2 separate regions of the Homo sapiens genome follow, and region 1 is linked to region 2. Evidence: fine-mapped expression QTL. A gene starts in region 2. The other region holds a variant in brackets. All regions are shown on one strand. Distances are from middle to middle.

Region 1 (10,481 bases), 600 kb before region 2:
GGCTCAGCCTCCCAAGTAGCTGGGACTGCAGGCACGTGTCACCACTCCCAGCTAATTTTGTATTTTTAGTAGAGACGGAGTTTCACCATATTGGCCAGGCTGGTCTTGAACTCCTGACCTCAGGTGATCCACCTACCTTGGCCTCCCAAAGTGCTCCGGTTACAGGCGTGAGCCACCGTCCCCTGTCATTGGTAGGCAATTTTACCTACCAGGTAGAAAAATTTTGGAACTTGCTACTTCAGAGGTGGAATAGGCTGAACATATAAATTGATTTGAAGTTTAAAGAAATTCATGGATGACGTTTGATCAATAAAAGACAGTAGAGGATGTTTAACTGTCAGTAACTTTTGAGAGTATTTTGCGGGAACACGAATCTTTCTGGGTTACGGCTGTGACATAGTATTGACAGAGACTTTTATTCTGGGTAGGTGAATTTCATATTTTCCTATTCAAAACAAGACACCAGGTTCTTAAATCTAGCTGTTTACTTACTGATTTTCTTCCTTCCTTTCTTTTTTTTTTTTTTTTTTTTTTTTTTTTTGAGACAGAGTTTTGCTCTTGTTGCCCAGGCTGGAGTGCAATGGCACGATCTCGGCTCACTCCGCCACCCGGGTTCAAGCGATTCTCCTGCCTCAGCCTCTCGAGGAGCTGGGATTACAGGCATGCGCCACCACACCCAGCTAATTTTGTATTTTTAGTAGAGACAGGGTTTCTCCATGTTGGTCAGGCTGGTCTCGAACTCACAACCTCAGGTGATCCGCCTGCCTCGGCCTCCCAAAGTGCTGGGATTACAGGCACGAGCCACTGCACCTGGTGTCTCATGCCCGGTCTCTAATTTTAGTGTCTTCGAGTATAACCAGTACTATAAAAGCCTGCCTATGGTGTTAAAAGATTTATCATATCAAGATTCAGCAGTTACAAAAAAAGGTTCAGCAGTTTTGCACTGCTGTGTAAAGCACTGCTTTCTGAACTATAAGGTGCATACCAGGAGATCTTGTTGAAGTGAGATTTATGTTTAGTAGGTCAAGGATGGGACCATAAAATCTGTTTCTTACAATTTCCTCGATGATACTGATGCTGTTGATCCATGGATAAGGATGCAGAGCATGAAACATACATCCTCTGCCTCCTTTGTACCTCTGTTGCTGCTCAGTACCGGGAGCACGCAGTATCCATTTTATTTTCCCAATTTGTTACCTTTGTCCTGGTGGCACTGACCTTCTTCCTTGTCCTCGACATCTTCTTACGTGAGTTGAATATGTGTATTTTGTTTGTATTCTCTCTTTTTAATTAATAAGGTTCCCCAATATCAACTCCAAGCCCATCACCATTGCCTCGAACCCCGACTTCCACTCCAGTCCACGTGAAGCAAGGCACTGCCGGCTCTGTTATTAATAATCCTTATGTTATCATGGACAAGCAGCCGGGGCAGGTGATTGGAGCCACCACTCCCAGTACAGGTGTGTATTAGATCCATATTTGTACCATCTAAAGGGTTTGATCTTTATTAAAAATGTAATCCTGCCATGACTTGGTAGCCATGTAATTGGAGAATGAAATCTCCCGTAAACGAGAAGCGAGAATAAGTAAAAGGAAAGCCAATACTCTTTCTCTGAGGGGAGATTTACTCTGTAAAAGTTGCATTTTTTAGAATTTACTTGAGTTTTCTTTTAATTTCTAAAAGTTCAAAATAAGCCATAATGAATGTTCTTAAAAGAATAGTTGATTTTGTTTTCATTTGGAAGACTTACGCTTTGGGGGACTGTAAGCAATGTGGTTACTACCTCTTCCAAAGAAGCTTTTGCTAACCTTGTGGGCCACATACCGTTCTCCCCAGTCAAATAAAAAATGATATTATTTTCTTCAAGGAAGACCCATTCTGCTTGTGGGAGGGGAAATTGAAACCTGCAGTTTTAAAGAGAACTCTAATAGGAAAAAGTCATCCTTGGGTTCACCGTGTTCCTCACTGTAATCCCATGCTTTTTAGGTTTTTTTGAAATGCTTTCTCTAACATTATTTTATTTATTCCCTTCAGTTAACCTGTATTTATTGTTAATTAATTAATTTATTAATTTATTGAGACAGAGTCTTGCTCTTTTCACCCAAGCTGGAGTGCAGTGGCGTGATCTCGGCTCACTGCAACCTCCACCTCCTGGGTTTAAGCAATTCTCCTGCCTCAGCCTCCCATGTAGCTGGAATTACAGGCGTGCACCACCACGCCCAGCTAATTTTTGTATTTTTAGTAGAGATGGGGTTTCACCATGTTGGCCAGGCTGGTCTCAAACTCCAATCCACCTGCCTCAGCCTCCCAAAGTGCTGGATTTACAGGCGTGAGCTACCACGCCTGGCCCCATTCAACCTGTATTTAAACACACGCTCCTAACTATAAACTTCCCTGAAGTTTTCACTTCTAATTAAGAGAAATAGAAGATAAATGAAATAAAAGGGATGATTATAAGATAATGAGACTGATTTTTTTGTTGTTGTTTGTTTGACCTATTGGATTTAACACATGAATGTATGTTGGGCTTTTCCAAGCAGTTTTTTTTTTTTTTGGAAAGGCTAAATTTTAATAGTGATTGTAATTGTGGAATGCCCTTAAAAATTACTGTGTTCAAGGCTTACCCAGTACCTTTCGAACATACTTAAGGATGCCAAATAGGTGTTATTTCATGACATTTTGTTTTAGGAATCAGCTAGAAGTCTTTGGAGGCAAGTTTGGTAAATGGAGTAAATGATTAAATACTATTTGGGGTCTTGACTTGTTGACTATAGGTAATATATGACTAAATTTTTTTCAGACTCTAAAGGCAGTTGTACAGATGGAGTATAAAATGTTTAATGTTGGCCAGGCGTGGTGGCTCATGCCCATAATCCCAGCACTTTGGGAGGCCAAGGTGGGCGGATCACCTGAGGTCAGGAGTTCGAGAGCAGCCTGGCTAACATGGCGAAACCCATCTCCACTAAAAATAGAAAAATTAGCCAGGTGTGGTAGCGCGTGCCTGTAGTCCCAGCTACTGGGGAGGCTGAGGTGGGAGAATCACTTGAACCCAGTAGGTGGAGGTTGCAGTGAGCCGAGATCAGGCAACTGCACTCCACCCCGGGTGACAGAGCGAGACTCCATCTCAGGAAAAAAAAATAATAATGTTGGCAGCATTTTGGAATAGGCATAACTTTCTGGTGAAACTACTTTGAAGGAGCTAGCAGAATGCATATATTCTGGCACATTTGTTAAACAGTATCATTATGTTGTAGTGTCTTTTATTGTATGAGGAGTAGAACATACAAGTAGAATACGTTATAGTGTCTTTTATTGTATAAGGAGTAGAATATACGAGAATATGCTACTGTTTATTGTACAAGGAGTAGTCTAAAACAAGTGACTTTACTACTTATTCTTCTGCATGTCCTTACCAGCTTCTTACCTTCTTCAGGTTGAGCATGAGATCAGCTTCACAGGGATGGGTCCTTAAGGGTTTTTTTCCATACTAGTTTCAGCCTTAACAATGAGTTTTCAACCCTTAAACATGAAAAATAAATAGTGCGAAAGAGGGGAGGATGGTAGAAATGCTTTAAAATTACCTTTTGTAAATTTTACTTTGTTTATGTTTTAATTGTGCCTTGCTTATCAGGAAGTCCTACAAACAAGATCTCCACGGCTTCTCAGGTCTCCCAAGGAACAGGTTCCCCTGTTCCTAAAATTCATGGAAGTAGTTTTGTAACATCTACTGTCAAGGTAACATTCTTACTGCGTTATTACACTTTGCTAGCTTCTTTTTCTTTTCATTTTTAAAAAATAATTTTTCAAATGGAGATGGGGTCTCCCCGTATTAACCAGGCTGTATCGAACTCCTGGCCTCAAGAGATCTGCCACCTCACCTGCCAGGGTACTGCGGTTACAGGCATGAGCTGCACCCCGCCACTTTGCCGGTTTCTGAACATAGTATGTTCAGCCTCAGCAAGAATGTGTCAGTTGATGACGCAAATTTCATAAAATGGAATCTTCAAGCTGTTAAGTATCTAGACTTTACTACCCCCAGACTTTACTAACTTACTTGGATCTACTCCAGACTTTACTACCTTACTTGGATCTTTTCATAGTGTCACAAATGCTTCACAACACTTGTGTGAAATAGTCACCCAGTATCAATTTAAAAACTTACTGTGATAAGATTATTTATTTACTTATTTGAAAAGTTTGTTAAAAATACTTGCTTATAAAAATATTCATCTGACCTCTTCCCTTTTGGACACCTCTCTCTCTCGCAACAGAGAGCTGCTGTCCTCTCCCCTTTCTTTTGCTTATTAAACTTTCTGCTCCTTAACCCATAAAAAAAATAAAAATTTAAAAATATAAAAACATTCATCTGACAGCACGTTCCTATCTTTTCTATGTTTGCATCACCAAGAAGTAAATATACAAATGGCTCCCACCTTACAGTGGTCCAACTTAACGATTTTTCGACTTTACCGTGGTGCAAAAGCAATATGCACTTAGCGAGCCCTCAGCTTACGCTGGGGTTATATTCAGATAAACCCACCATACGGTGAAAGTGTGGGAAGTCAAAAATGCACTTTTGGCCTATGATGTTTTCCCCTTATGATGGGTTTATCCAGACGTAACCCCATCCTAAGTCGGGGAGCATCAGTGTTTCCTTTTCCATGTGTTAACCGTTTAGCTATTTGAAAATAATGCTTACCTCCACAGAGTCTCTCCCCTGCTCCCCTTTTTCTGGGTAAGCAGTCCTTTAAAATTT[A/T]CAACTCCAAATATGATCTGACCTGTTCCAGTCAAATGACTGGTGCCTGACACAGCATTTCTTTTATTTAGACACTAATGATGATATTGAATGACTTCCTGGTCCAAGGCGAGGCTGTTCTCTAAGTTCTGTGCAGTGTGTTGGCACTGTTATATGAATGTCTGAATTATAGTAATCTTGAAAGTCTTAACTCTGCTGGTTTAATTTTTATTGTTTGTTGGTGATCATTTTACTTTACAGCCAAGAAGTGTTCTTCGTTTCCAAATTTTGACAGATTACCTCTGAGATTTGCATTTTGTGTTTGAGAATTAAAGAGAAACTACAGAATTTTTTTTTTTTTTTTTTTTTTTTTGAGACAGAGTTTCGCTCTCGTTGCCAAGGCTGGAGTGCAGTGGCGCAATCTTGGCTCACTGCAACCTCCTGCCTCCTGAGTTCAAGCGATTCTGCGGTCTCAGTCTCCTGAGTAGCTGGGGTTACAGGGCATGCGCCCCACGCCCGGATAATTTTGTATTTTTAGTAGAGACGGGGTTTCTCCACGTTGGTCAGGCTGGTCTCGAACTCCTGATCTCAGGTAATCTGCCCGCCTCAGCCTCCCAAAGTGCTGGGATTACAGGCGTGAGCCGCTGCGCCTGGCCAGAACTACAGAAGTTTTGAATGTTGACTTTCGTTGTCTTTGCCTGTGCCAAATTATTCAAGTTTTTTGTTTGTTTGCTTGTTTTTTAAGTTTTTATTGAAAATTTTTCCTTTGTATTCTGGGTGTTCATTGAGTAAATTTTGCAAATCAGTTGTGAGTACTATTAAAAGAGAGTATATACTGAAACATTGCAGCTGCCTGTTTCTTTCATTTATTTATTTAGTGCCTAGGCTCCAGGGATATAAAATTAAATACAGTCCCTGTCCTTTAGTGGTTTACCAACTATCGGGGAAGACCAATAAAGTCAGCCAAATGTTAGGGGTAGTAAGTTAGAAGTCTTTCCAGTGTACAGCAGGACACAGATGAGTAGATTCTTGCCAAGTTACAGCTTTTCTTTGCATTTGTTTTCTAAAACAATATTAAAATGCAGGTGTAGAGGCTTGGAAGACCCCAAGGAATTTTAGGTTTTTTTCTTTCTTTTTTTTTTACGGAGTTTTGCTCTTGTCACCCAGGCTGGAGTGCAGTGGCGTGATCTCGGCTCACCACAACCTCTGCCTCCCTGGTTCAAGTGATTCTACTGCCTCAGCCTCCCAAGTAGCTGGGATTACAGGCACCCGCCACCACACCCGGCTAATTTTGTATATTTAGTAGAGACAGGGTTTCTCCGTGTTGGTCAGGCTGGTCTTGATCTCCCGACCTCAGGCGATCCACCCACCTCTGCCTCCCAAAGTGCTGGGAGTACAGGCGTGAGCTACCGCACCCAGCCAGTCTTTTTATTTCTTTATATTGCTAGAGAATGTCACAGGTTTGTATTAAATATAAGTGACTAGATATCTGAAATCACCCATTTCTCCTGATTGTAAAATATGTATTTTTACACACACAGCAGGAGGATTCTTTGTTTGCATCTATGCCACCTCTTTGCCCAATTGGGAGTCACCCTAAGGTTCAAAGCCCCAAACCTATAACAGGAGGACTTGGAGCTTTCACAAAAGTGAGTATGTATTAGGGCATTGTCCCACAAGTCATAATACTTTTTGTGGCATGTTGGAGTTCATTGCCACTACCCCTACAACATGTTACTTTTTAGTGGGTCTCAACTCCTCATTCTGAGACGTGCTTCCATGTATTTAATGATGTCCTCAGGGCAGCCCTTGGAGTCCAGCAAGATGGGGATTCATGGAGCACAGTGTGTTTGTTTCTCTCTGCTGTCATTTGCCACAGTCTCTAAAACAAGTGACTGTGTTATTACAGGAGCACAGGATCAAGTTCAGATCCTACTTTTGGTCCCTTTAATAGCTGGTATGGACTGTATTTAAGCAGTATGTATATTTACCCTTCTGGTGGAGTCATTCTTTACGTATCAAGTTTCATCAATTCATTAATCCCTGCAAACGGAGAAGAGTCAGATATTAGCAGCTTTATAAAATGGGATGTTTATGGATGTTTATTCAGTGTCATTATGTTTGTTGCAAGGTGATCATCAAACAGGAACCTGGTGAAGCCCCTCACGTGCCCGCAACAGGAGCTGCCAGCCAGTCACCACTCCCGCAGTATGTGACTGTGAAAGGGGGTCACATGATAGCTGTGTCCCCTCAAAAACAGGTCATAACTCCTGGAGAAGGGATTGCCCAGTCAGCAAAGGTTCAGCCCTCCAAGGTTTGTGTTGGGTAGAGATGGGAAATTTCACATGTAAATGATGTTGTTTGCCTAAATAATTGACAAGTGCTGAAAAGATTCACGGTGACAGGGTTGATGATCCCATAAGAACCTGTGGGTGAAAGCCTAGTTGGAAAAACAAGTCTGTTGGTGTGAAACTCTTCTACTCCTGTAGTAATCATTGGCAAGAGCCGCGTTATGTATTGCAAAGGATCCCGGAATGGGCCAAGAGGCAGGGGAACACTGCTGTCTCTGGCAGTGGAGGCAGAGCTGACTCATGGGCACAGCTTTCTACTTGATTCATCTCTAAAAGGGATCCGCTGTTGACTTGTTTATTTATGGTAGGAGAATGCTGTAGTTTATACCTCTGATGTTCGGGCTGTTACCTGTTTAATGATTCTTAGCTTTCTGTAGAGTTCTTTTTTTTTTTTAATAATTTGGAGGTACAGGAGAATTAATGTATTGAGAGAATTTTAAAATAGCACATAGAGGCCGGGCATGGTGGCTCACGCCTGTGATCCCAGCACTTTAGGAGGCTGAGGCGGGCGGATTACCTGAAGGCAGGAGTTCGAGACCAGCCTGACCAACATGGAGAAACCCCATCTCTACTAAAAATACAATATTAGCGGGGTGTGGTGGCACATGCCTGTAATCCCAGCTACTCGGGAGACTGAGGCAGGAGAATTGCTTGAACCTGGGAGGCAGAGGTTGCGGTGAGCTGAGATCGCGGCACTGCACTCCAGCCTGGGTGACAGAGAGAGACTCTGTCTCAAAAAAATAAAAATTAAAAAATTAAAAAAAAAAATAGCACATAGAGCCATGTTTTCCTGAATCAATTGGAAATGTAGCCATGCATCACCTGATGATGGTACATTCTGAGACGTGTCATTAGGTGATTTTGTTGTGTGAACATCGCAGTGTACTTAAATCCAGATAGAATAGCTAACTACACACTTAGGCTGTATGGTGTGGCCTATTGCTCCTAGGCTGTAAACCTGTTCCGCATGTTACTATTGAATACTATAGGAAGTTGTAATAGAACAATAAGTATTTGTGGATCTCAACATATCTAAATATAGAAAAGATACTGTAAAAATACAGTGTTATAATCTTATGGGACCACTGTTAATATATGCAGTCTGTCATTGACTAAAACATCGTTAATGTGGTAGATGACTATGGTATCAATATTGAGTGCTTTTGTGTATGCCATGCTTGTATTTCTACATTTTCTATAATCCACACACAACCCTGGAGGGTGGGGATTTTCATCCCTGTTTTACAAATGAGGAAACTGTGGCTCAGAGGTTAAACAGTTTCCTTGGGAGCATTACAGCTAATAAATGACAAAGTGTTTAAAGTCAGGCCTGCTAACTCCAAGCTCCCCATTTCAGAACTAATGAAAAGTGGTTGTCTCTAACCTTGGTATGCTTTCAGAGCATCAGGGTTAAATTACCTCAACTTTTGGCAGGTATACTCTAAAGCTATTAAGTATATAATATGGGCTCGGCATGGTGGCTCACACCTGTGAGCCACCTAACACTTTGGCAGTCCAAGGCGGACAGATCACTTCAGGTCAGGAGTTTGAGACCAGCCTGTCCGACGTGGTGAAACCCCATCTCTACTAAAAATACAAAAACCGAGCGTGGTGGGTGGCATGCACCTGTAATCCCAGCTACTTGGGAGGCTGAGGCAGGAGAATCACTTGAACCCAGGAGGCGGAGGTTGCAGTGAGCCAAGACTGTGCCACTGCATTTCAGCCTGGGTGACAGAGGGAGACTGTCTCAAAAACAAAAAAACAAAAAACAATGGCTGGGCACGGTGGCTCACGCCCGTAATCCCAGCACTTTGAGAGGCTGAGGCGTGCGTTATCACCTGAGGTCAGATGTTGAAGACCAGCCTGGTCAACTTGGTGAAACTGTCTCTACCAAAAATACAAGAATTAGGTGGACATGGTGTCGGGCTCCTGTAATCTCAACTAGTCAGGAGGCTGAGGCAGGAGAATGGCTTGAACACAGGAGGTGGAAGTTGCAGTGAGCTGAGATCGCACCATTGCACTCCAGCCTGGGCAACGAGTGAAACTCTGTTTAAAAAAAAAAAAAAAAAAAAAAAAGATATCATATAGATGTTTTTCAGCTTGAAACCCAGCCTACCTATCTAAGGAGAATGAATTGTTTTAAGAATAGCCCAAAATCGAAAAAGATTTTAGCTATCAGATAGAGATTAGGATCAACTTAAAAATTCATAGAGCTTGTCGCAGTGGCTCACGCCTATAATTCCAGCACTTTGGGAGGTCAAGGCGGGTGGATCGCCTGAGGTCAGGAGTTCGAGATCAGGCCAACATAGTGAAACCCCGTCTATACTAAAAATACAAAAAATTATTTGGGCGTGGTGGCGGGCGCCTGTAATCCCAGCTACTCGGGAGGCTGAGGCAGGAGAAACGCTTGACCCCGGCAGGCAGAGGTTGCAGTGAGACGAGATCTTGCTATTGCACTCCAGCCTGGGCAACAAGAGCAAAACTCCATCTCAAAAAAATAAAATAAAATTCGTGGTGTTATCGGTGGTTCTAAAATCTGTTAAGTTTATTAACGACTTTCTCAGACTTACCTGGTTATAAGAATCATCTGCTGATAGCTACCTAGGCCACCATCTCAAACTTACTGCATCGGATTCTTCTTGAGATCCCTGGGAATCTGGGTTTTTAATAAGTGTTTCTGCTGATTCATCTACTTAGGCAGCAGATTTAGGAATCATGGTGCTACAGCATCTCATTTGACTTTGAGGCATTCGTAGCCAGAATGACTAAGACAGGCATCCCCAACTGCTTACTAGTGCTCCCACTGTGGTTCTGGCTTCAGGGGTAAGAATTCTGCCAAAATCCCTTAGTAAATCAGTTATTGTCATCTGAACTTCCTACTCAGGCTTGTCGTATATGTACCTCAAAATCTGTTTTGCTTCACATAGGGATATGTGGCTTTACTGATTTCTGCTTTGAATCAACTTAGCATTGCTGTTTATGTTAGAAGCTCTTGGATAAGTTCGTTTCCATTTTTTGCCGCTTTGCATATTGCCAATCCACTCCTCCAGTGATGCTGAACAACTGTACTGACTTGTCACATGGCCACCTACTTAATGGTAAATGTAAGGTTGGAGGAGATAGGTGGGTCTGTGCCACAATGCCCTAAATATGGTTTAAGGGCATCTGAAAAGAAAAACCACAGCAAAGTGTGAAGGAACTGCAGAGAAGCAGTAGTGCGTGAGATGATACCACTGTTTACCCAGGAAATGGAATCCATGATTAGCAGTTGAGATAAGGAGCTGTCTGTGAGTACAGACTGTTCCTGGTTATTGCTGAAGTGCATTCCTAGAAACTATGCCAGAGAACAGGCTGGGTGTGTGGTTCATGCTTGTAATTCCAGCACTTTAGGAGG
Region 2 (10,232 bases):
TCAGGGCATATTGTGTGATGGGGTGGAGAAGTTTCTGCCTCTCTTTGTCTCTCTGCAGTGACTTAGAGTGAAGGTCAATGTTGGGGGAAGCTGGGGTCACTTGTAAAGTTGACCAGAGGTGCGTAGGGAGCAGGTTCAGCTGGCTGCCCTCTCTCTGAAGGATGTCAGTCCCAAGGGAAGTCATGTCTCGCCCTCCCCACTCCCAATCCTCAGGGTCACACTGAGAGAGCTGTGTTCTGGAGATTAAAAAAAAAAAAATCTCGGCCGGGCACAGTGGCTCACGCCTGTAATCCCAGCACTTTGGGAGGCCAAGGTGGGCAGACCTGAGGTCGGGAGTTCGAGACCAGCCTGACCAACGTGGCGAAACTGTCTCTACTAAAAAATACAAAATTAGCCGGGCGTGGTGGTGCATGCCTGTAATCCCAGCTACTTGGGAGGCTGAGGCAGGAGAATCGCTTGAACCCAGGAGGCGGAGGTTGCGGTGAGCCGAGATCGCACCATTGCACTCCAGCCTGGACAACAAGAGTGAAACTCCGTCTCAAAAAAAAAAAAAAAAAAGAGATCTCATCTATCCCCATGGGTCATGGGGGGAACCTGAGGCTCAAACACTCTCCAGGGAGCATTCCTATATGGGCCAGCCCAGAGGACCTGAGGAGGCCTTAGTCTTTGATTCCCAAATGTCCTCTACCGCTGACTATAAACTTAAAAATGCCAATTTTCAGGTAATTCATATGAATATAAAAATGCTCAGTCAGCCTGGAAAACACTGCTGGCTGATTTCTCAGTGAAGTGCCTGTTTTGACTGGGCCATTCTCTCCCCATCACTGTCCCCTGACCTACTGTGGCCCTTATACAACTCAAAGCAGCCTGGAGAGGAGCCGAGAGCCACTCACTTCCTCATGAGGAAGCGATTGATGGTTTTCTGCTTCCGCATCACCTGGACAATCTTCCGGTTCAGGTAGACAAAGAGGGCTCCACCGAAGCCACTAGCAATACTGGAAAGGGAAGAGGCACCTGAGTGAAAAGGAGCCTTCTAGAAACCCCCCTCCTCTCTGATACCCCCAGCCCCCTCAGCTCCTCACCCAATGACAGCAAAGGCTGGCAGCTCCTGCAGGTCAAAGGGGAAGTCGAGCCGGAATCGGGTTTTGAAGAGGGCTGTAATAGTCTCTAAAGGGAAGAACAGCAGAGGGAGGCAGGCCTAGCCTCGTGGGCCCCCTACCTGGCACCATCTCGGGCTGCCCTCATCCCCTGGGTGCCCCCACCTTCATCCCGGTTCCAGACTGCCAAGACCCGGAAGATGAAGGCACTGAAGGTGGCAGCGAAGAAGCCCCGCCAGTAGTTCCGCACTGCAAAGAAGGTGGAGGTGACCTCGATGCTGAAGAGGACGCCTGTGAGGGGGAGGGAGACCAGCACTTGAGGCCTGGGCCTGGCCTAAGGCCTCAGACCCAGATAAGAGGGGCCAAGGAGGAGAGGCCAAGGGCAGGGTTGTGGGGCTGGACTGACCTAGGAGCCCTGCCTACCTCCAATAGGTGCCGCGAAGCAGCAGCCCACCCCCACGGCACAGGCGGCAGCCAGCATCTCTGTGTTCCGGGATTCATTCTGGCGAGAGTGGTGGCAAGAGGGGGTCAGCTGTGGGCTCAGCAGCCTCTGCCCCCTACTTGCCCCAGGGTTCCCCTTACCTCATAGATACCCCCAAAGAGGGAGAGGAACTTGCTGAGAAGGGCAGCACACATGCTTGCGATATGCACAAAAGGGCCCTGCGGGGTGGGGCAGGCGGTGAGTCGGGAGGGGGCCCGCCCTGACCTTGGCCTGGCCTCCTCTTCCACCAGGAGGGACTCCTTCATTCCCCAGCCTGCAGTTACCTCTTTGCCAAGCGGCATCCCGCTGCCTAGGGCGCAGGTCAGCCCAATGACCTTAGCTATAAAGGTCTTGAGTGTGAGGTATTCTTTCAGCACCACTCCCCGCAAGATGGTCTTCATCTCAGGGATGCCAGAGCCTGGAGAGGGAACAGTCTCAGGAGAGGCATTCGATGCACCCATTTCAGGGGTCCCGCCTCTGCCCTCCCCTTCTCTTCTAACATACCGACAGCCTGAGGGGCCAGGATCTGTGTGAATCCGGCTGAGAAAGTGATGAGGACAACAGGGTAGGTGACCCAGGCCAGGTACTGGAGCAAGATGCTGGTGTTCAAGCCCCGGGACATCCACTGCTGGGCTGTGGGAAGAGGACCTGCTGGACCCCCAGTGCACACACCCACTGCCTGCCTGGCCAGTGGACCACGCTGATACGACAGGCTGTCCCAGGGAGTACCACACAGAGTCAGGGCATGGGTGAAGGAAAGGGTCCCTGAGGGTATTCACTGGGACAAAGCGCAATCTAGGCAAGAGGATCACTTGGAGAGGGGATGCAAGAAGCTGTGCCCTGTGGGAGTGGCCGAGATGATGCCTGAATCTGGGCAGTCAGACTGGCTGGGGAAAGTGGTCAGTGGCCAAGAAGCCAAGACGCCTTCCTCCATGTCTAGACGAGTGTGGCATGGACGCAGGAGGTTTATTCCCAGTCCTCCCCCTGCCAGCTGTCACCCTCACCTTGCAGACAGGCAGCAATGGCATAGTCCATGACCCAGCTGACCAATGCCATGAGAAGCCCCAGCAGGACCAGGAAGATCCAATCTTCACCAACCCTGGATACTAGGAACTTGTGGCAGCGGACAGAACAGACTGGGTGCAGGGAAGGGAAGAAGGGGGAGGATGGCACCAAAGTGCTCCTACCCCTTTTACTGCCCCCTCAACTGTCCCCTCTCCCCCATCAGCAGCTCTAATGGCCTCTGCTTCCCTCAGCACAGCACAGCCAGGTCCCCTGCCCCCACCCCAGTTCTCACCGCGGCATCGGGCGCAACGGCTCCGTCCATATTCCAAGAGCTCTGGGGCAGCCCGAGAGGAAGGGGGACCTTTCCAGGGTTCAGGCCCTCCCAGGCGAATCCGAGCAGCTTCCTCTTTGGCAAAGGCCCCAAGGTCCTGAGTGTACCGGCCATACATCTGGAGCAACAGAGGGGATGGGGGCATTCGAGGTCATGGGCTGAGTGGGAACGCAGGGAGAGTTCTTAGAGCCTCCACTCCTCTTCTCCCAGCCCCCACACTGGATATCCCTCTTGAACGCACAGTTCCCACTCTGGCCCGAGGTGTGGGAACAATGCACATTGCAGACTGTGGAGGCTGTCCTGGCCAGAGTGATGGGGACAGCCAAGGTACAGGGACACAGCTCTGGGGGTGGCAGAATAATCGGTCCTCTTCTCACAGGCCTGGGGCTGGGGCACTGAAGAGGAGTGAGAGGGAAGCCCCAGAAGAGGAAAAGGTGGAAAAACCTGTGGCACAGTCTAAAAGTGGGAGGCGGGAAGGCCAGGGAGTAAGGGATGATCAGGGGCACATGGGCAACAATAAGAGCCTCGTGGAGCTCGGGGCAGCTGAGTTGGGCCCAGGAGCAGGCGCAGCCCCAATCCTTATCACGTTCCTGCTGGGCCTCCGGCCTGTGACCAACTCAGCTGCACCTCTCCCACCCACCCTAATCCCCTTGTCCCCATTCTCCACTGCCACCCCCACCAGCCTGCCAGCCCAGCTGGGAGTGGAAAGCCTCTCACTTAGGGTGGGTGGAGAGGGCTTGGTGGCCTCAGCCCCATTCTGGAGCTGCACTGAGCCCAGCGGTGGGTTGGGGGACAGCGGAGGCTGAGGATGGCTGGGCTGTGACTGTGGATGCTGGGGTGATGGGACGGGAGAGTCGCCTGAACCATGGCTAGACCTGCCAAGCTGGGCGTGTGTTGGGGGGCGGGGAGGAGTAGATTCTGGCTGCCACCCGCAGAGCTTCGGGACACAAAGGGCTCCTGTTGGGGCTGGGATGGGGGGGAGGGAGGGAGGGAAAGATAGAGACAGAGAGAGGGTGAGAGATAGGAAAGGGAAAGCAAAGAGAAGAGAGGGAACTAGAGAGGAGAAAGTAGAAGAGAAAAGAGAGGGAAGGCGAAGGGATGGAGAAGAGAAAGAAGGGGATGAGAGAGGAAGAAGTACGGAGGAGGAAGAGAATGGAGAGTATTAAGAGGCAAGCACGGTGTAGGAGGAGGGAGGTGAGAGTGGGAGAGAAAGACAAAGGGATAGGATGGTGAAGGGGGGCGGGAGCAGGCTGGAGCACAGAGTGCCCGGGACAGAGCTCGACCCTGAGAGCTCATTCCAGAGACAGCTGGAAGGGACGGAGATGGAGAGGTGGCTGGTGTTAAGAGGCACCATTTCAGAGGCCAGGTGCCTGGCTTCCTTGACCATGCTCCTATCCTGGTCTGGGCAGATTGGCAAGTGTCTCCTACCCCATCCCAAGGGTTGGCCCCTCTACCCTTGCTCTACTCCCACCTCTCCCTGACATCCTGATTCATCCAGCTACTTTCTCCTAACTGGGCACCTCCCAGACTTATAGCCTCTCCTCTCCAAGACGTTCCCTCCCTGCCACCTTCCTGGGCAAATTCCAGCCCAAGCTGGTAAAAAGGAACCACGGGCCCCTTCCTTTCCCTAGGGCTTGGGTCTTCCACCCCAGTGACATGAGGAGGGTCACGTGGCTTCTCAAACACCAAGTAACAATGGGGGCGATAAGTCAGCTCAGAGCCCAGGACCCCTGCTTCTAATGAGGTCAGGGGACACACCCTGGGGTGGGTGGGGGCTGGATACCCCGCATCAGCATAGACAAAGGTCCCAATTCCCACACCCATTCCTGCTTCACCCACCCTCCCTAAAGCTCCTGTCCCCCAGAGTGGCAAGCCACCTTTTTCCAGAGTCAACTGAGGGGCTCCTGGAGCCAACGCTGGGTGTGGAGCCTCCAGAGGTAGGGTCTGGGGCTGACCATCTTTCTACACACTCGATTCTATGCTTAGCATGGTGCCATGCACATGGCAGGGACACAGAGAATGTCTTGGGTGGTGGAGATAGTGGCGTAGAGAAAGTTCAATGGTGTGAATGGTGCCGCGGAAGGGGCAGTGGGGTGCTGAGACTTGGGCCCAGGTGGTGAAGGGGAGGTGCAAAGAAAACGTGCATGTTGTGGGGTGAGGGGAAGGACACCTGAGACAAGTACCTGGTGTCCTTGTCCTCTGCAGGCCCTCAGCCTCAGCCAGAAACCAGCATGCAGTTTTCCATCCCTTCGGCCCTGCAGCCTCAGACTTCCAAGCCTCAGTTTCCCCAGCTCAAAATGCTAGGACAGGATTAGGGTAGGCCCCTGGTCCTCGCGCTTCCCAGGGTAACCTGGAGCAGGGGTCCCGGAGCGCACTCCTGGGGCTCAGCTCAGCTTCACTTACCAGGGTCTGCTCGTACTGCAGCGCCCGTGGCTCCATCCCTTCCTCCGCCGCCGCGGCCGCCATCTCCGCGCACTGCCCTCTCGCCTCCCTCGGCGGTTCCGGCTCTGTCCTGGACTCGGCTCCCGGCCCGCAAAGTCCGCGCCGGCAGCCGTCCCGTCCCCGCAGCCCGGGAGGCCGAGAGCAGAGTGCGGCGGGCCCCCGGCGGGCGCCGCTGGCGCAGCCTCCCGCTCGCGTCCCCTCCCCGGCGGGCGGGCCGAGGGCGGTGCCCTCTGCGCTGCTCCGCCCGCCGGCCCATCCGGAGGGGACGGCCCAGCCAGGCTGGGGTCCGCGCGGGGCCTCCCGAGAGGCGGCAAGGGGCGCTGGGAAGGCGCAAGCCCGCGCCGGCTCCCTGCGGATGCCCGGGTCGGAGAGGGGCGCCCGGGAGGGGCGGGTCTACTGGCACGTGGAGGGGCCGGCCCGGGTTCGCGGTTCCCCGTGCCCAGGCAGGAGGGGCTGCAGACGCCTGAGCTCCGTAGGGGTTGGGGCTGGGGGCTGCGGAGCTGTCTACATCGGACTCCTCCGGGTCAGCCCGTTAGGAGCCGCCTCCCCTCTGCCCCTCCGAAGAGACGAGCGGCCCAGACAGGCCTGGGAAGGCCCCTCTGCCCCGTCAGGGGTGAAAAGCAAAGCTGGAAGGATTCGGAGAGGGTTGGGGCCGTCTTCCTCATCCTTCCTTTTCTCGGGGCTCCCGTGGGTAGGTGCACTTGGAGCAACCGGGCCTGCGGGGTGTGCGGGGGTGGAGGTTGGGGAGGGCACCGGAAGGGGTAGGCCGGAGGGAAGGGAGCTCCAGGTGCCGGGAAGTCTACTCCTGGGACGCGGGCGTGGGTCGCTTCTCCCTGGCTGGGCCCAAGGAGGAACCCAAGTCGCTGCTTCCATCCCTCCGCTTTGGGGGAACTGCCTGCTGGTGTTCTGGGTTCTCTATCAGGGGCTGGGGAAGGATAGAACAGAGGGCGGAGCGCGCGCAGGGTGGATGGGCAGCGTAGAGATAGTGTGAGAGGAGCGAGGGCAGCGCCCAGGAAACGCACAAGTGTGCGGGAGAGCCAGCACCAGGAGTAAGGGGCATTTGGGAGGCAGAGGCGGGGCTCAGGGGGCGGGAGCAGTGCCCGGGAAGGGGGGGCCTTGTGATAGAAGCCAGCACTCAGGAGGAAGGGCCAGTGTGAGGGAAGAGCTGGTATCCAAGGGACAGGGCAGTGCCAGGCTGAAGGGGCACGGAGGGGATCCGTGTCCAGGAGAAGGCAGTGGAGGGGGAACGCGCAGCACTAAGCTGGAGGGGTAATGCCCGGGGGAGGGGGGTGGCGGGAGCCCGGCTGAAGGGGCGGTGTAGGGGAAGAGAGCAGGGCCTGGGGGGAAGAGGGAGGGCAGTGGTGGGAGGGTGCAGTACGAGAGGAGGGGACAATGCAGGCTTTCCTCTTCTCCATAGCGACGTCATGGCAAATTCCCAAACTGGACGGATCCGGCTCGGGTTACGTCCAGCAGGGCCGAGCCGGCCCAGGCCGGCCCCGGGGTCCTCGGTGCCGGCTGGAGGGGCTGGGCACCTCTGGGGCGGGGTTCTGCTCCACCTGCCCTCGGCGCGGACTGTGCCCTCGGCGGGCACGCGGACCGGCGGGGTAGGGCTAGGGCCCGGCTTCTCTGGGCCAAGGATCAAGGTCCCTGCCTGGGTTAGGCCCCCACGCATTCCAGTCTTCGGAACCCGGCCTCTGAAGAGGGCGCAGTAGGGCCCCAGCGGAGCGCGAGAACCCGCTCTACAGCCTATTGCTTCCCCGCCCTGGGCAGAGCCACCTGGACATGAGACCCGCCCTCAATGCCGAAGCCTCTCGGAAGCAATCTTTCGGGACGGAAGTTAAGTAGCCCCGAGCGGGAGGCTGTGGCGGAAGTGGTCGCGTTACCGCTTGTTTGTGCGCATGCGCCACTCTCGTCTGGCCGCCGCGCTTTCAGGAGGTGCTTTTGGTTCTCTCCGGTCTTGTCCACGCTAGGGGGTGCACGTACTCCCAACTGTGGTCGCGCTCTCACCCCTTCTGCTGCTCTCGTGGCCCCCTCGCGATGGCGGGCATCCTGTTTGAGGATATTTTCGATGTGAAGGATATTGACCCGGAGGGCAAGAAGTTTGACCGAGGTAAGTAAGGTATGTAGGGGCGGTTTGGAGGAAGAGGCTAACCTCGCGGACATGCCCCTGGGCCCCGTGTCCACCCAGCTCTTGTGGCCTGCCCCTACCAGCAGGTCCTGGTGTAGGGACCTCCCTCAGTAAACATTTTATGGATGAGAAAACGGAGACTCCCGAGCTCTCTCTGGCTTCACGCATGCCGTGCCCGGTGCCTGGGTGGCCTTTTGTCATGGTGCTGGCAAACTCCTAGGCATATTTATAATCGCTACCTGCTCTGTGCTAGACACTGTCTTGTGAGACCAGCCTGGCCAACATGGTGAAACCCCGTCTCTACCAAAAATACAAAAATTAGCCTGGCGTGGTGGCGGGCGCCTGTAATCCCAGCTACTTGGGAGGCTAAGGCAGGAGAATTGCCTGAACCTGGGAGGCGGAGGTTGCAGTGAGCCAAGATCGCGCCACTGCACGCCAGCCTGGGCGGCAGAGCGAGACTCCGTCTCAAAAAAATGACAGTCCTCATGAGGTGGGTGGTGCCTTTCCCATTTTTCTCTGAGAGGTTGAGTAAACCACCCAAGGCTTCACAGCGAGTAATCTGACTTCAGAGCCTATATTCTTGTATTGCCCTCAGAATCTTTAGCGCTTTGTGAAGTCTTCTTTGAGTTAGAGTTAGCTGCTTGGTATATACCTTTTTTTTTTTGAGACGCAGCCTTTCTCTGTTGCCCAGGCTGGAGTGTAGTGGCACGATTTTAGCTCACCACAACCTCCGTCTCCCGGGTTCAAGCGATTCTCTGCCTCAACCTCCCAAGTAGCTGGGATTACAGGCATGCGCCACCACGCCTGGCTAATTTTGTATTTTTAGTAGAGACAGGGTTTCACCGTGTTGGCCAGGCTGGTCTCAAACTCCTGATCTCAAATGATCCACCTGCCTCGGCCTCCCAAAATGTCGGGATTACAGGCATGAGCCACTGCACCGGCCTACACCTCTTTATTTTGTCATCTATCAATAATTTTCTCTTTGATGTCTCTTTCTTTGCCTGGAGACTAAGATGTTTTTCAAGACGGATACCAGTTCTTATACATCTTGGTCACTCCCCTCAGCACAGTGCCTAGCATAGAAAGAGAAAACCTTTGGATGATTGAATAACTTGCCCAGAGTCAGGTTCTCAGTCATCCAGGCAGGCTTTGCTGCTGGAGTATCTTTGGTTGTTTTCTGGGGATTACGTTCGCTTGCCACAGTTTTTCTCCCCTTTTCCTTCTTGCATATCTGGTTCTGATTGAGCCTGAATTTCTATGAGAGCAGATGAGAGACCACTGGATGTAGACTGGGTTAGATTGAGTATCCTGTTGCATACAATCCCACACTGTAGGATCTGCCTTGGCAATACCTCTGTCACTCTTTTCCTGCTTCTCCCCAGTGTCTCGACTGCATTGTGAGAGTGAATCTTTCAAGATGGATCTAATCTTAGATGTAAACATTCAAATTTACCCTGTAGACTTGGGTAAGTATTGAATACAGACAATAATAAGAGACTTTTTGCTGCTTCTGCTATTCTTTACTCTCTGATATTGCTGTTATTTTCAGGTGACAAGTTTCGGTTGGTCATAGCTAGTACCTTGTATGAAGATGGTACCCTGGATGATGGTGAATACAACCCCACTGATGATAGGCCTTCCAGGTGAGGGAGTGGAGAAGGTAATACTTGAAATATGCCTTGAGGACTAAGTAGATAAGTGATATAGAAAGACTCTTCTAAAATTCCTGGAATAAATGATGATCAGCAGAATCTGAGTAACCTTAAGGAAATTTCTGCACTTAAGAATTCAAACAGGCCAGGCACCGTGGCTCACACCTGTAACCCAAGCACTTTGGGAGGCCGAGGCAGGAGGATTGCTTGAGTCCAGGAGTTCAAGACCAGCCTGAGCAACATAGCGAAACCTCACTGCTACAAAAAAGAAGAGAGAAAAAAAAAAAAGGCTGGGCATGGTGTCATGTGCCTGTAGTCCCAGCTGCCTGGGAGGCTGAGGTGGGAGGATTGCCTGAGCCAGGGAGGTTGAGGCTGCAGTGAGCCATGATTGCACCACTGCACTCCAGCCTGGGTGACAGAGCAAGACCGTGTCTCAAAAAAAAAGAAAAAAATTCGGGCCGGGCGCGGTGGCTCACGCCTGTAATCCCAGCACTTTGGGAGGCCGAGGCGGGCGGATCACGAGGTCAGGAGATCGAGACCATCCTGGCTAAAACGGTGAAACCCCGTCTCTACTAAAAATACAAAAAAAAATTAGCCGGGCGTAGTGGCGGGCGCCTGTAGTCCCAGCTACTTGGGAGGCTGAGGCAGGAGAATGGCGTGAACCCGGGAGGCGGAGCTTGCAGTGAGCCGAGATCCCGCCACTGCACTCCAGCCTGGGCGACAGAGCGAGACTCCGTCTCAAAAAAAAAAAAAAAAAGAAAAAAATTCAAACAACCAGGTATTTATCTATAACAGTGATTACATGCTTGTGAGTTGCAGCCTTTTGAAGGCTGAGGAGGTAACTGCTGAGTGACCTAGGCCATGTGGGTCTTGTGTCTTGGGAGGGAGCTTGGTGTGATGGAAAGACTTTGGCACCCCACTTGAGTTCATTTCTCAGCTCTACCACTTATTTGTTGAGTAACCTTAATCTCCTTCAGCCTGTTTCCTCATCAATAAAATAGAGATGGTCATGCCTAGCTCATGGGGTTGCCATGAGGACTAAATGACATCATGTTTGTAATGTGCCTGTTGTTATAATGCTGGCATTTAGTTACCA

Alleles and levels. Positions count from the first base shown, and alleles are read on the strand shown. Sizes are in standard deviations (SD) of each study's normalised expression.
With allele T in place of A in region 1, the expression in monocytes of the gene that starts at base 5,611 in region 2 is higher (large effect, 0.86 SD a copy in Quach 2016).

What was found. PIP is the estimated chance that this variant, and not a neighbour inherited with it, causes the effect. A credible set is the group of variants that fine-mapping cannot tell apart.
Region 1: its variant is the best candidate, but not a certain one, in a credible set for the expression of POLR2H in monocytes (Quach 2016, PIP 0.66).

The regions. Positions count from the first base shown.
Region 1 is chr3:183,755,230-183,765,710 of GRCh38, forward strand. It overlaps YEATS2 (YEATS domain containing 2), which reads left to right. Exons shown (of 31, transcript NM_018023.5): 12 at 1,299-1,460; 13 at 3,633-3,736; 14 at 6,278-6,385; 15 at 6,868-7,050. Among named protein-coding and RNA genes, the nearest start is that of YEATS2-AS1, 50 kb to the right of the region's middle. The variant A/T (reference allele first, on the strand shown) is at 4,758.
Region 2 is chr3:184,356,100-184,366,331 of GRCh38, forward strand. POLR2H (RNA polymerase II, I and III subunit H) reads left to right here and starts at 5,611. Exons shown (of 6, transcript NM_006232.5): 1 at 5,611-6,047; 2 at 6,774-7,466; 3 at 8,867-8,950; 4 at 9,034-9,127. The coding sequence starts at 7,394. CLCN2 (chloride voltage-gated channel 2) reads right to left here and starts at 5,506. Exons shown (of 24, transcript NM_004366.6): 1 at 5,318-5,506; 2 at 2,876-3,032; 3 at 2,583-2,714; 4 at 2,083-2,211; 5 at 1,863-1,996; 6 at 1,680-1,757; 7 at 1,521-1,599; 8 at 1,263-1,388; 9 at 1,083-1,167; 10 at 894-995. The coding sequence starts at 5,380. It overlaps LOC124906311 (a long non-coding RNA gene), which reads left to right and starts at 4,228. Exons shown (of 3, transcript XR_007096193.1): 1 at 4,228-4,658; 2 at 4,765-4,851; 3 at 5,120-5,212. RefSeq lists enhancers at 3,138-3,651, 3,652-4,163, 7,501-7,620, 7,981-8,050 and silencers at 5,281-5,870, 6,431-6,700, 6,771-7,040, 7,101-7,280.